Regions from separate parts of the Homo sapiens genome. Here region 1 is linked to region 2. Evidence: fine-mapped expression QTL. Tissue or cell type: whole blood. Region 2 holds a variant in brackets; the other region holds the start of a gene. All regions are shown on one strand. Distances are between the middles of the regions.

Region 1 (8,100 bases), 110 kb before region 2:
GCCCGGCGGGAAGGCAACTAAGGCCCGGTGAGAAATTGAGCACAGCAGCTGCTGGCCCAGGTGCTAAGCCTCTCACTGCCCAGGGCCGGCGGGGCCCGCGGGGCCGGCTGGCAGCTCCCAGTGCAGGGCCCGACGAGCCTACGCCCACCCAGAACTCGCGCTGGCCCACAAGCACAGCACGCAGCCCCGGTTCCCGCCCGCGCCTCTGCCTCCACACCTCCCCGCAAGCTGAGGGAGCCGGCTCCGGCCTTGGCCAGCCCAGAAGGGGGCTCCCACAGTGCAGCGGCGGGCTGAAGGACTCCTCAAGTGGCGCCAAAGTGGGAGCCCAGGCAGAGGAGGCGCCGAGAGCGAGCGAGAGCGAGTGAGGGCTGTGACGATTGCCAGCACGCTGTCACCCCTCAGTGTGACTGGCTAAGCACATAAGGAAGATAGTTGATGAGTATTTTTTTTCACCTTAAGATAACTGAGTATGTAATGAATATTCTGATAGAGATATGTACAAGGTACAATGGGAGTTTGGTAATAGCTGGTTTAATTAATTAGATAATCTGTTAATTGTATGTCTAGCTTTAACCTGTGAACCCTTTATGAATCTATGAACCTGTACTGCATCAGGCAAATCCAGTTGGGTTTTTGTGTTTTTTGTTGTTGTTGTTTGCTTATTTTTTTGAGACATAGTTTCATTTTGTTGCCCAGGCTGGAGTGCAATGGAGCAATCTCAGCTCACTGCAACCTCCACCTCCTGGGTTCAAGTGATTCTCCTGCCTCAGCCTCCCAAGTAGCTGGGATTACAGGCATGCACCACCACCCCTGGCTAATTTTGTATTTTTAGTAGAGACGGGGTTTCTCCGTGTTGGTCAGGCTGGTCTCGAACTCCCGACCTCAGGTGATCCGCCCGCCTCGGCCTCCCAAAGTGCTAGGATTACAGGCGTGAATCACCGCGCCCGGCTCAGTTGGTTTTGCCTTCATAGTAATTCTCCTGTTCTACTCTCCATGTGATCTCCCTGCTGACAAACTTGTTTCCCTTTCACACATTCAGTGCGCTAAATAGCCAGAATGAGATTTTAAAAATGTAAATCAGATTAAGCTACTTTTTTGCTTAGAACTCTGCAGTGGTTTCTCATCATATTAGGATAAAAATCCTTGCCAAGGGTCTACAGGGCCCATATAACCTTACCCTGCCTCCTTCTCTTCCTCTCAGCACTCTCTCACCCTTTTCCCCTGTGCTTTAGCCACAAGACCACAGTAGTCTTTTTTTCTATTCCTTTAACACATCAAGCCTCTATATACAACTGGGCCTCTGAAATTATTGTTCCTACTTTCTGAAACATTCTGCCCGCAGACCTTCACATAGCTATTGTTCAAATTTCTACTTAAGTGTCATTTCCTCAGCTTGGCTTTCTCTGATCACTCCGTCTTTCCCCATCCCCTTCCAAGTACTTATGACTGCCTGTCATTAGTATATTTATTTTGTCGTCTGTCTTTCTCACTGTAATGTAAACCACAGGCTTGTGGGGACTTTTCCCAAGGTTTGGAACAGTAGCTCATATATTCTGGCTGCTCAGAAAATATTGGTTGAATGAATAAATAACTTTGACACAACCGCTCACAGAGCTTATCACTGCTTGAAGTTATCTTTTTCCCATACTTTGTTATACTTTATTGCCTGTTCCTCCCACTCACCCTACTAGAGCAGCAACTTGTTTGCCTTGTTTATTTTTATATCTCTGGAGTCTAGAGCAGTTCTTGGCCTATAGCAGGTGTGTTGTCAGTAAATACAGCAGTCTCATCCACAGTTTTGCTTTCACTGGTTTCATTTACCTGAGGTCAATCACAGTCCTAAAATGTTAAATGGAAAATTTCAGAAATATACAATCCATGAATTTTAAATTGTGTGCCACTCTTAGGAGTGTAATGAAATCTCCTGCTGCTCACTTCATCCTGCCTGGGACATGAATTATCTATCCCCTTGTCCAGCATATCCATGCTGTCTATGCCACCTACCTGTTAGTCACGTAGTAGCCATCTTATCAGTTATCAGATTGACTGCAGCAGTATTGCAGTGCTTATGTTCAAGTACCCATTATTGTACTTAACAATGGCCCAAAGTTCAAGAGCAGTGAATACTGGCAATTCAGATATGCCAAAGAGAAGCCATGAAGTGCTCCCTTTAAGTGAAATGGTCAAAGTTCTTGACTTAAGGAAAGAAAAAAAAACCCTATGAGACTGCTAAGATCTATGGTAAGAACCAGTCTTTTATCTGTGAATTTCTGAAAAAGGAAAAAGGAATTTGTGCTAGTTTTGCTGTTGCAACTCAGACTACAAAAGTTATGGCCACAGTGCCTGATAAGTGCTTAGTTAAGATGGAAAAGGCGGCACAGCACAGTGGCTCATGCCTGTAATCCCAGCACTTTGGGAGGTCAAGGTAGGTGGATCACTTGAGGCCAGGAGTTTGAGACCAGCCTGGCCAACATGGCGAAACCCCAACTCTACTAAAAATACAAAAAATTATCTGGGTGTGGTGGCATGCACCTGTAATCTCAGCTACTCCGGAGGCTGAGGCAGGAGAATCGCTTGAACTTGGGAGGTGGAGGTTGCAGAGAGCTGAAATGGCGCCACTGCACTCCAGCCTGGGTGACAGAGTGAACTTCATCTCAGAAAAACTAAAACAACAACCACAAAAAAGATGGAAGAGGCATTACATTTGTGGGTGGAAGACATGAACAGAAAACATGTGCCAATTGATGGCAACGTGTTGAGCCAGAAAGTATTGAGCCTATACAAAGACTTCAGTGAGGGATTCCCTAAAACGAGTGATACCAAGCCACTTACTGCAAGTAATGGATAGTTACATGAATGTAAGAATAGATTTGGACTGAAAAATATAAAAATCACTGGAGAGGCTGCATCTGTCTCTTCATCTTATCACATAGGCATTTTATCATCATACATCATCTCAAAAAGAAGGGTCAGTACAATAAGATATTTTGAGACAGAAAGACCACATTTACATAACTTTTATTACAGTATAATTGTTCTATCTTATTATTACTTGTTAATCTCCTACTGTGCCTGATCTATAAATTAAGCTTTATCATAGGTATGTATATATAGGAAAAAACATAGTACACATAAGGTTTGGTACTATCCATCGTGTCAGGCATCCACTTGGGGGTCTTGGAAAGTAGCCCCTGCAAATACAACTGTATTTGTTAAATGAATGAATGGATGAGTAAGACATCGTATTCACTTCTTAAAGATCTTAAAATCTAGAGAGGAGAGAAACATTGCTGTAGGAGAGGATAAACAAAGGACTGTGAAATCTCTGGAGAAATTGAAATCAGGAAGGGAAGGGCAAATCGCAAAAGTCAAGCCAGGAGCATTAAGTTAGATTTGTGCTTTGAGATGAAAACCCCTTACAAATCCTAAGTCAGGGAATGCAATGGTTCTAGAGCCAACTCTAAAGAAAATTTCACACATGGGAAATACATCCTACTGGATATCCGGATTAAAAGCGTTCAGTAGAGACTGGTGCAGTGGCTCAGGCCTGTAATTCCAGCACTGTGGGAGACTGAGGCAGGCAGATCGCTTGAGCCGAGGAATTCGAGACCAGCCTGGGCAACATGGCAAAAACCCCATCTCTATTAAAAATACAAAAAATTAGCCAGGCGTGGTGGTACATTCCTGTAATCCCAGGTACTCAGGAGGCGGAGGTGGGAGGATCACCTGAGGCCAGGAGGTAGAGGCTGCAGTGAGCTGTGACCATGCCACTGCACTCCAGCCTGGGCGACAGAGTGAGACCCTGTCTCAAAAAATAAAATAAAATGAGAAATAATAAAATAAAATTAGCTGGGCATGTCGGGAGGCTGAGGTGGAAGGATTGCTTGAGCCCAGGAATTCGAGGTCATAGTGAGCTCTATCACGCCACTGCACTCCAGCCTGGACGACAGAGCAAGACCCCAGCTCTTTAAAAGAAAAGCGTTGAGTAAATACTTGTTGATTAATTCCATTTCTGGAAATAATCGGATTTATGAAAGAGGCCCTGCCCACCTCTTTGATATGGACTTGTACTAATGAACTACAATTCCCAGCATGCGTCAGAATTAGGGCCGTAGAGTTTTTTAAAATATGGACTACAACTCCCGGCATGCCACACCAGGATTCGAGGACCACACGCCTCAGCCAGCCCCGGCAAGGGCCTATCAGGGGTGGGTCGGGGCATCCGAGCGGGTTTGACGGAAGGAGCGGCGGCGACGGAGGAGGAGGATGGAGGCGGTGGTGTTCGTCTTCTCTCTCCTCGATTGTTGCGCGCTCATCTTCCTCTCGGTCTACTTCGTATCCTTGCCTGAGGCAGGCGAACGCCTTGCCGGGGGACACGGCTGAGGGTGGGCCAGTTGGGCACCCGGGCAGGTGTGTGGGACTAGGGAGGCGCCCGGCGGCGGGCGTGGGCTCCCTGGGAGCTGGCCTGGCCGGGGCGGTGGCGCGGGCCCCGGAGCGGGTAGGAGAGGCTGGCTGCCCTACCCGACGGGCCCTGCTGCCCTGCACGCACTTGCCCTGCCTGGGTTGCCGGCCGCCCCTCACTCGGGTCCGAGTGGGCCTCTCCGGGCGCGCCCCGTCTCGGCCTGCCCGCCTGCTCTCCGCTCGTCCCCGCGGCGCCCGGACCAGCCCTGCCTGAGCCACGGCCGCCCTCGGGAGAGAAGCGTCGCTGTTTTTCTGGGAGAGGCCCTGCGCCGTGCTCTTCGTCGGATATTGGGGGTCCCAAGGGCGGTCGCTTGCGACAGTCGGGTGCCGGGATAAGTGCGGGCCATTTGCCTCCTCCTGTTCCCCACGCAACACCCCCGGCACCCGCCCCTTTGTTCTGGCGGGTGTTAGTACTTGCAGGGACCTTTCACATCCAGGAGTTGACTCATTCGCCAAAGGAGCGAAGTTGCTTCCTTCACTGTGCCGTTTTGTAGTGAGTGTTGGAAAGGAGTTGTTTTAACAACTGTCTACAAAGTGATTATTTTGGTTGTCCCCGGTGGTTGCAGATCTGTAAATTCAATAACTACATCTGCTGTAGTTCCCAATCGTTTCTCAGCTTTTAAATTTTTCTATCGATCCATGTTAAAACTTAAGTTGCAGTATTCAAACTGTTTTCCAGAGCAATAAATGGTGGTTGAATTTAGCACTGCAGTAGCCATGTCGGCTACAACTCTTCCCATCTCTTGACAAAGCATCTAGGCTTAGTTGTTGCCCAATGTTGTATTGCACCATCCAGGTTTAAGTAATTAAATATAAGAAAAAACGTATGAGGAACTCCGCATTTCAGCTTCCTTTCTTGGAAATCACATGTACCTGTTTCTGATCGGATTAAACCATTTGTTTGCTAGAGCATGCGGGCTTTAGGATAGTCGTACAGAGTATATGTTCAGTGCAGCTTCATTTTTCATTGTGGACTGGCATCCTGTTGTAGTGGAAAGGGACAAAATTTGGAATCAGATTTCCTGGTCAGCTAGCTCTTTGCTTGCACATTATTTCCCTAAGCCTCAGTTTTCTGATCTTTAAAATAGGAAATGTTTATTTCCTAGATATGCACAATGAGAATGGTGCTGAGCACCCTAGCACAGTGCCTGCCCCATAGCTAATGTTCAGTAAATATTGCTCTGCCTTCGTGTCCCCACCCTCCCCAATTGAGCAGCAGTTTTTACTTTGATGATATCTAACGACAAGATTTCTGAGTTTTAGTAGGTTTGGGGAGCTGATTGAAAGGGCAGCATCACTTGCCTAAGTTTTGATGACCTCTATGCCCCTCTTGTGATATAAGGAACTAGAGCAAGCTTGTCCAACCCACGGCCCACGGGCTGCATGTGGTCCAGGACAGCTTTGAATGTGGCCCAACACAAATTTGTAAACTTTCTTAAAACATTATGATTCTTTTTTGGTGATTTTTTTTTAAGTTCATCAGCTATCATTAGTATTAGTGTATTTTATGTGTGGCCCAAGGCAATTCTTCTTCCAGTGTGGCCCAGGGAAGCCAAAAGATTGGACACCCCTGAACTAGAGCTTATGCTCAGAAATGTAGCTGGGTTTTTTCTTTTTGCAGTTTGGAAAACCAGGCTTGATAATTTTAAATAGCCCTGGTTTACACCAATTTATGCATTTAGAGAAATGGTAGGTGGAATGTTTGACTTAGACATTACATTAAAATACATTCGGGGGGTGTTTTGATGAAATTCAGCATATTCTGTATTTTAGAATAGTTGCACTAACTTAGGGATAGGAGGTGGAAAATGGTCACGGTAGACTTAATATAGGATATAAGAGTTTTCTTGGACTTTGAACTGTGGACAAAATCTACAGGAAGGGGAAGAGGTGAATATTCCAAATCAGACACTGGCAAGAGCGAAGGTGCAGAGACAGGTATGTTCGTGGATTTCTGGGCTATGGTTAACGAATAGACCATCTGGAGCACATGGTTGATTTTGGCGTCAGTAGAAGGCTAAGTTGGAAAGGCAGGATTACATCAGATTTTGGAGGGCTTGAATGTTAAGGGTGGGAGGGAAGTCTTTCACTTTTATCCTGCAGGCAATAGAGAGCCATTGAAAATTTTTATTTTCGGTAGTTTATTAGGAAGATGAATCTGCCGAGTGGGTTGGAAACAAGAAAGATTGGAAGATAAACCAACTGGATAGGGTCGTCTGGATTTCAAATAGAGTGCTGGTTGTGGGCAGGTGAAAGGAGGGAATATGTGAGTAGTATTTAGAAGAAATGATTGCCAGGACCTACAAATGAGTGATTATGATATATGAAACAGAAGGCAGAGATAGCTTTCCATATTTTGATCCTGGGCAAGTGATACTTGTGTCAGTAACAGAAATAAAACAAATTGGAGGAAGATCAATCTGTGGAGAAAGTGATGAGTTTGACTTTATTTTATTTTCATGTTTATTTTTGAGACAGAGTCTCACTGTCACCCAGGCTGGAGTGCAGTGGCGCAATCTTGGCTTACTGCTGCCTCCATCTCCTGGGTTCAAGCGATTCTCCTGCCTCAGCCTCTCAAGTAACTGAGACTACAAGTGCCTACCAAATCTGCTGCTCAGACTGGAGCGCACTGGTGTGATTATAGCTCAGTGTAACGTGAATCCTGGGCTCTAGGCATTTTGCTGCCTCACCTTAGCAGTACTGCTACTAATAGCTAGCATTACAGGTGCTCATGCCCGGCTAATGAAAAAAAAAGAAAAAATTTGTAGAGATGGGGGTGAGGTGAGTGAATCACTTGAAGCCAGGAGTTCGAGACCAGCCTGGCTAACATAGTGAAACCCCGTCTCTACTAAAAATACAAAAAATTAGCTGGGTGTGGTGGTGGCGCGCACCTATAGTTCCAGCTACTTGGAAGGCTGAGGCACAAGAATTGCTTGAACCCAGGAGGCAGGGGTAGCAGTGCGTTGGAATTGCGCCACTGCACTACAGCCTGGGTGAAAGAGATGGAGGCTTGCTATGTTGCCTATGCTGATCTTGAACTCCTGCTTCAGGCGATCCTCCTGCCTCAGCTTCCCAAAGTGCTGGGATATTTCCCATTTTTTTTTTTTTAATAGCCATTGTTTTACATTTGAAGAACTCAAACTAAATGTTCTGGTTGGGTCAGATTAGATTTGAGCAAAATAGGATTATTTTGTAAAATAATTTGTTGAAGGAACATGAATGGGAAAATTGAGTTGTCTAATGAGCAAACTTTAGGAAACAACTCATTTTTTTCAAGTCAAATCTAATTCTGCCTTGTAACTGGGATTGCTTTCTGAAACTTAAATACTTAGTTATTATAAAAGAAATATAATAATTCCTTATCTTGATCATCAGATAATTACATTGTCTGATTTAGAATGTGATTACATTAATGCTAGATCATGTTGCTCAAAATTAAACAAGGTAAGACATTTCTTTGCTCATTCTCTGGCATTGAAGCCAGGTCATTTTCCATACTTAAGATTATTATAGATAACAGATGTATTTTTGATTTTAGAGTACATGTTGTCTCTTATTCATTGGAAATTTGATGGAACTGCTGTGTTTTACAATATTTTAGATCATGAAATTATGCTAGAAGATCTGACTTGAAATTTT
Region 2 (8,108 bases):
TCGAACTCCCGACCTCAGGTCATCTGCCCACCTTGGCCTCCCAAAGTGCTAGGATTACCGGTGTGACCCACCATGCCTGGCTGGTTAGAATTATCTTTAACTCATCACAGTCTACCTTCAAGTTATATTGTATCACTTCACACATAACATAAGTTTACAGGAGTCTACCTTTGTTTCCCTCCTCATAGCTTTTATGCTGTTGTTGTCATACGTTTTACTTACACATTTGTTATAAACCACAGTCTATACTATTATTTTTGCTTGAACAGCCAGTTTTCTTTTTTAGATGTTTTATTTTGAAATAATTATAAACGGGATATTGCAAATAAATGTATAGAAAGGTCCTGTGCATCCTTCACCCCTCCTCCCTCAATGTTGACATTTTGCATAACTACATACCGTATCAAAACCAGGAAATTGGGCGGGTGCTGTGGCTCACGCCTGTAACCACAGCACTTTGGGAGGCTGAGGCAGGCAGATCACCTGATGTCAGGAGTTTGAGACCAGCCTGGCCAACATAGTGAAACCCCATCTCCACTAAAAATACAAAAATGAGCCGGGCATGGTGTCGGGCACCTGTAATCTCAGCTACTCGGGAGGCTGAGGCAGGAGAATCGCTTGAGCCTGGGAGGCGGAGGTTGCAGTGAGCTGAGATCTCGCCATTGCACTCCAGCCTGGGTGATGAGAATGAAACTCCTTCTCAAAAAAACACAAAAAACGAAAAACAAAAACCCAGAAATTGGCATTAGTACAATCCACAGGGTTTAGTCAGATTTTACCAGTTACACATGCACTCATTTGTGTGTGTATGTAGTTCTATGCAGTTTTATCATACATGTAGCTTTGTGTAATTGCCACCACAATCAAGATACAGACCCATTTCATCACCATAAGCCTCCCTGATGCTTTTATAGTCACATCTACCTTCTTTCTCCCCAGTCCATAACCCCAGCAGCCATTCTTCTGTTCTCCATCTTTTAATATTGTTATTCAAATACATTACGTAAATGGAATCACTTATGTAGTGTCATACAGTCTGTAGCTTTTTAAAAAAATCAATCAGCATAATTCCCTTGAGAACCAGCCAAGGCCTAATTCTATCGTAGTTTTTTCCTTTATGTTGCAGAGTAGTATCTGTGGTATGGATGTACTACAGTTTCTTCAACCATTTATACATTGAAGGACATTTGGGTGGTATCTAGTTCTTGGCTATTATAAATAGAGTTGTTATCAACATTCATGTATAGATTGCAGAGCGCATATAGGTTTTCATTTGCCTGGGATAAATGCCCAAGGGTGCAATTGCTGGGTTGTATGGTAAGTGCACTTTTAGTTTTAAAAGAAAATGCCAAAATATTTTCCAGAGTAGCTATCCCATTCTACATTCCTGCCAGCCATGTAAGAGTGATCCAGTTTTTCCCATATCCTTGCCAGAATTTGACATTTTTTATTTTATCACTCTGTTAGGCATGTAGTGATAATGCATTGTGGTTTTAATTTAGATTGCCCTAATCACTGAGGTTGAACATCTTTTTATTAGCTTGTTACCTGTATCTACTCCTCAGTGAAATGTTTTTAGTACACTTGCTAATTATATTGTTTGCTTTTCTACTGTTGAGTTTTGGAAATTCTTTATATTCTAGATACTAAATCCTTTGTTGGATATTTGGCTTGCAAATATTTTCTCCCAGTCTGTAATTTATCTTTTCATTCTCTTGAGACAGGGTTTCACTCTGTTACCCATGCTGGAGTGCAGTGGTGTGATCATGGCTCATTGCAGCCTTGACCTCCTGGGCTCAAGTGATCATCCCACCCCAGCCTCTCACGTGGCTGGGACTACAGGTGTGTGCCACCATACCCAGCTAATTTTTTCTGTTTTTTGTAGAGACATTTCTTGAACTGCTGGAAATGTTGCTGAGGCTGATCTTGAACTGCTAGACTCAAGCCATCTGCCCACCTCTGCCTCCCAAAGTGCTGTGAATACAGGCGTGAGCCACTATGCCTGGCTCTTTTCATTCTCTTAACAGGAGCTTTCACAGAGCAAAATTTTCTAATTCTTAAGAGGTCCAATTTATCAAGTTTTCCTGGATCATAGTTTTTGTTTGTTTGTTTGTTTGTTTTTGTTTTGCTCTCATTGCCTAGGCTGGAGTGCAATAGTGCGATCTCAGCTCACTGCAACCTCTGCCTCCTGGGTTCAAGCAATTCTCCTGCCTCAGCCTCCTGAGTTGCTGGGATTACAGGCAGGTGCCACCAAGCCCGGCTAATTTTTGTATTTTTAGTAGAGACGGGGTTTCACCATATTGGCCAGGCTGGTCTCGAACTCCTGACCTCAGGTGATCCACTCACTTCGACCTCCCATATTGCTGGGATTACAGGCATGAGCCACTGCGCCTGGCTGGGATCATAGTTTTGATATCAAGTTGAAGTACTGTTCTCCCAGCCGTAGGTTTTGAAGATTTCCTCCTGTTTTTTTTTTTTCCAAAAGTTTCATAGTTTTACATGGTATGTTTAAATCAATGATTCATTTTAAGTTAATTTTTGTAAAAGGTATGAGGCTCTTCTTTTTTTTTCTTGGCCTACAGACTTTTTTTTTTTCTTCACCAATTGTTGAAAGGGCCGTCCTTCCTCTATTAAATCATGTTTGTACCTTTTTTCTTTAAAAAAATCAGTTGTACATTCTTTTGTGATTCTATTGTTTCCTCTATTATATTTCATTGATCTACATATTTATTCTTCCACCAGTACTCTACTGTCTTGATTACTGAAGTTATTTAGTAAGCCTTAACATTGGGTAGAATGATTCTTCTTACAACATTCTTCTTTTTCAAAATTGTCGTAACTATTTTAGGTCCTTTACCTTTCCATATAAATTTTAGAATAAGTTATTTATATCTATAAGAAGCCTTGCTGGAATTTGGATAGGAATTATGTAAATCAATTTGGGAAAAATTGATGTTTTTAGTGTTGAGTTTTCTAAGTCATAAACACAGTATTTCTATTTATTTAGGTCTTCTGTGATTTCTTTCATCAACATTTTGTAATTTTCAGCATACAGCTCTTATACATGTTTTGTTAGATTTATAACTAAGTATTTCATTTGCTTTGTAGCAATTGTAAATGGTATTGTGTTTTCAGCTTTGGTTTCTACATGTTTGTTGATTTTTGTGTGTTGATTCTGTGTCCAGTG[A/T]CCTTCCTTATTAATTTTTAAAATTGCAGTTAAAAATAGATTTATTAGGATTTTCTGTGTAGATAATTGTCATCTACAAATAGGGACAATTTTATTTCTTTCTTTCCAATCTGTCTGCATTTATTGTTTTTCTTTCTTTATTGCATAGGCTAGAACTTTCAGTACTGTGTTGAATAAGAATGATGAGAGTACGTCTGTGGTAGGAGAAGGTGGGAGCATCACTTGAGGCCAGGAGTTAAAGGCTGCAGTGAACTATGATCATGCCACTGCCACTGCACTCCAGCCTGCGTGACAGAGTGAGACCCTGTCTCAAAAAAAAAAAAAAAAAAAGAAAGAATGGTGATGCCATGTTCCTGATATTAGGGGGAAAGCATTCAGTCTTTCAGTCTTTCACCACTAATTATGCTGTTACCTGTAGTTTTTTGGTAGATGCTCTCTATCAAGTTGAGTCAGTTCCTCTCTAATCCTAGTTTGTGAAACTTTTTTTTTTTTGTGCACGTGAATGGGAACTGGATTTTGTAAAATGCTTTTTCTATATCAATATGGTCATATGACTTTTCTTCTTTTTTATTTTATTTTATTTTTTAGACAGGGTCTTGTTCTGTCACTCAGGCTGGAGTTTAGTGGTGCAATCATGGCTCACTGCAGCCTTTACTTTCTGGCGTCAAGTGATCCTCCCACCTCAGCCTCTTGAGAAGCTGGAGCTTCAGGTGCATGCCACCATGCCCAGCTAATTTTTAATTTTTTTTGTAGAGACAGGATTTTGCTATATTTCCCAGGCTGGTCTTGAACTCCTGGACTCAAATGATCCTTCCACCTTGGCCTCCCAAACTGCTGGGATTACAGGTGTGAGCCACTCTGCCCAGCCTGATTTTTCTTCTTTAGCCTGTTGATATGATGGGTTATATTGACTGATTTTCAAATATTGAACTGGCCTTGCATACCTGTAATAAGTCCAACTTGGTTATGATGTATAATTTTAAAGAATTTTTTATTATTTATTTGTTTTATAGCGACAGAGTCTTGCTCTGTCACCCAGACTGGAGCGCAGTGGTGCAAATCATAGCTAATTGTAATCTCAAACTTCAGGCTCAAGCAATCCCTCCGCCTCAGCCTCCCAAGTAGCTGGGACCACAGGCATGTGCCATCATTCCTGGCTAATTCTTTTTTGATATTGCTGAATTTAATTTATTAATATTTTGTTGAGGACTCAATTATCTCTTAAAGAGACATAAATAATAGGAAAAACATCTTACATATTTTACCTGTGTGGTAACCATTTCTGACACTCTTCATTCCTTTGGTTAGATCAATATTTCCATGTGGTATCATTTTCCTTCTACTTTCAGGCCTTCCTTTAATATTTTTTAAAGTCTGGTAGTGATGAATTCTGCCAGATTTAAAAAAAATCTGAAAACATCTTTATTTTCATTTTTGAAATATGGTTTTTAAAAAACTGGGTGTATAATTTAAACTTGGCAGTTCTTTCTTTCAGTTATTCTTCTTCTTCTTTTTTTTTTTTGGAGACAGAGTCTCGCTTTGTTGCCCAGGCTGGAGTTCAGTGGCGCGATCTCGGCTCACTGCAAGCTCTGCTTCCCGGGTTCATGCCATTTTCCTGCCTCAGCCTCCTGAGTAGCTGGGATTACAGGCACCCGCCACCATGCCCGGCTAATTTTTTGTATTTTTAGTAGAGACGGGGTTTCACTGTGTTAGCCAGGATAGTCTCGATCTCCTGACCTTGTGAGCTACCTGCCTCGGCCTCCCGAAGTGTTGGGATTACAGGCATGAGCCACTGTGCCTGGCCTTTTTTTTTTTTTTTTTTAAGAGGTAGTGTCTCACTCTGTCACCCAGGATGGAGTGCAGTGGCACGATCGTAGCTCACTGCAGCCTTCTTGGACTCAAGTGGTTCTCCTGCCTCATCCTCTCAAGTACCTAGGGCTACAGGTGTGTGCCACCAGGCCCAGCTAATTTTGTAAAACTTTTTTTGTAGAGACAAGGGTCTCCTTGTCTGGCCCAGGCTGGTCTTCAGCTCCTGGCCTCAAGTGACCCTTCTGCCTCGGCCTTTCAAAGTGTTGGGATTACAGGTGTGAGCCACCACACCCAGCCCTCTTTCAGTTGTTATTGTTTTTTGTTTATTTGTAAAAATGGGATCTGCCTATGTTTTGAACTCTTGGGCTCAAGTGATCCTCCCACTTCGGTCTCCCAAAGCGCTGGGTTTACAGGCACAAGCCACCATGCCTGGCCATCTCTTTCAGTTCTTTAAAGATGTTGTTCCATTGTCTTCTTGCTTGCATTGTTTCTTTTTTGGGGGTACATAGTAGGTATGTATATTTATGGTGTACACGAGCTATTTTGATACAGACATACAATATGTAATAATCACATCAGGATAAATGAGATATCCATAACCTCAAGAATTTATCGTTTGTGTTACAAACAATCTAGTTGTACTCTTTTAATTATTTAAAAGTGTACAATTAAATTATTTTTTACTATAGTCACCTCGTTGTGCTAGCAAATACTAGGTTTTTTGTTTGTTTGTTTGTTTGTTTTAGATGAGGTCTTGTTCTGTTGCCCAGGCTGGAGTGCAGTGGCACAATCTCAGCTCACTGCAAGCTGGGTTCAAGTGATTCTCCTGCCTCAGCCTCCCGGGTAGCTGGGACTATAGGCATACGCCACCACATCCAGCTCATGTTTTATATTTTTAGTAGAGACAGGGTCAGGAGTTCGAGACCAGAACTCCTGACCTCATGTGATCTGCCCGCCTTGGCCTCCCAAGGTGCTGGGATTCCAGGCGTGAACCACAGTGCCTGGCAGAAATACTAGCTCTTATTCATTCATTCTATTTTTTTGTACCCATTAACCATCCCCTCTTCCTCCCCACTCCCCCACTACCCTTCCCAGCTTCTGGTAACCATCATTGTACGCTCTATCTCCATGAGTTCAGTTGTTTTAATCTTTAGCTCCTACAAATAAGTAAGAATACGCAAAGTTTGTCTTTCAGTGCCTAGCTTATTTCCTTAACATAACTACCTCCAGTTCTGTTCATGTTGTTGCAAATGACAGAATCTCATTCTCTCTTTTTTTTTTTTTTTGAGATGGAGTCTCGCTCTGTCACCCAGGCTGGAGTGCAGTGGCGTGATCTCGGCTCACCGCAACCTACGCCTCCTGGGTTCAAGCAGTTCTCTGCTGCAGCCTCCTAAGTAGCTGGGACTACGGGTACCTGCCACCATGCCTGGCTAATTTTTTTGTATTTTTAGTAGAGACGGGCTTTCACCATCTTGGCCAGGCTGGTCTTGAACTCCTGACCTCATGATCCACCGGCCTCGGCCTCCCAAAGTGCTGGGATTACAGGTGTGAGCCACCGTGCCCGGCCTCTCATTCTTTTTTTTATAGCTGAATAGTACTCCATTGTGTATATGTACCACATTTTCTTTATCCATTCATTTGTTCATAGACACTTAGGTTGCTTCCAAATCTTGGCTATTGTCAATAGTGCTGCAGTAAACATGGAAGTGCAGATATCTCTTCGATATACTGATTTCCTTTTTTTGGGAGGGTGGGTATTTCCCTAGCAATGGGATGTCTGGATCATATGATAGCTCTATTTTTGTTTTTTTGAGGAACCTCCAAATTGTTCTTCATAGTGGTTGTACTAATTTACATTCCCACCAGCAGTGTATAAGGATTCCCTTTTCTCTACATCCTCACCAGCATTTGTTATTGCCTGTCTTTTGCATAAAAACCATTTAAAATGAAGTGATATCACATTTTCTATATGATAATAGAAGTCATTATATAAAAAAGATACTTGCACATGCATGTTTATAGCAGCACAATTCACAATTTCAAAAATATGGAACCTGCCCAAATGTCCATTAATCTATAAGTGGATAAAGAAAACATGGTATATATGTATACATCATGGAATACTACTCAGCCATAAAAAGGAGAGAAATAATGACATTCGCAGCAACCTGGATGGAATTGGAAATTATTATTCTAAGTGAAGTAACTCAGGAATGGAAAACCAAACATTATATATTCTTACTAATATGTGGGAGCTAAGCTATCAGGACGCAAAGGCATAAGAATGATACATTGGACTTTGGGGACCTGGGGAAAAGGATTGAGGATGGTGAGGGATAAAAGACTACACGCTGGGCACAGTGTACACTGCTAGGGTGATGAGTGCACCACAATCTCAGAAATCACCACTAAAGAACTTATTCATGTAACCAGACACCACCTGTTCCCCAAAAATCCTATTGAAATAAAAAAATTAAAAATCAAAAACCACAAAATTCAGAATTACAGGAGCTTTCCTCTCCCACAACCACCTAAGATTCTGGACAACTATATTTATAATGGGTATCTCAGATGATTCTCATGAATAAGTCATCCTGATAGATTTTAGGGCCAATTTTTCATAAGAATTCAAGGAAACTGTCTTTGCTGGGCTATGTGAAATTACCCAGAGCTGCTTATCTCTCATTGGCAGGAGGGTTTGGCATCAGTTGCAGGTGACTTATTTCCTTTTACTGTGGATGATAGAGATAATTGAAGAAAAAGCCTTAGTTTGTATTTAAAAAAATAAATAAAATAATGGGTTTGGAAGATATTATTTGCAAGCCTCATGGTAACCTCAAATTTAAAAACGTACAATGGATACACAAAAATTAAAAAGCAAAAAATTAAAACATACCACAAGAAAATCATCACCTTCACTAAAAGGAAGACAGGAAGGAAGGAAATAAGAGAAGACCATAAAACAACCAGGAAACAACAAAATGACAGGAATAAGTCCTTACTTATCAATAAAATAAGTAATTGGTAATCGACTACACTCAACAATCAAAAGGCATAGAGTGGCTGAATGGATTAAAAACAAAACAAAACAAAACAAGACCCAGTGATCTGA

Evidence for each region. PIP is the estimated chance that this variant, and not a neighbour inherited with it, causes the effect.
Region 1: CNIH4 starts here. The variant in region 2 is fine-mapped to the expression of CNIH4 in whole blood (TOPMed, PIP 0.98).

The regions. Positions count from the first base shown.
Region 1 is chr1:224,352,659-224,360,758 of GRCh38, forward strand. It overlaps CNIH4 (cornichon family member 4), which reads left to right and starts at 4,221. Exons shown (of 5, transcript NM_014184.4): 1 at 4,221-4,335; 2 at 7,837-7,905. The coding sequence starts at 4,267. RefSeq lists enhancers at 3,874-4,013, 4,571-5,071 and a silencer at 4,294-4,663.
Region 2 is chr1:224,465,327-224,473,434 of GRCh38, forward strand. It overlaps a transcript of CNIH3 not described here. Among named protein-coding and RNA genes, the nearest start is that of WDR26, 35 kb to the left of the region's middle. The variant A/T (reference allele first, on the strand shown) is at 3,188.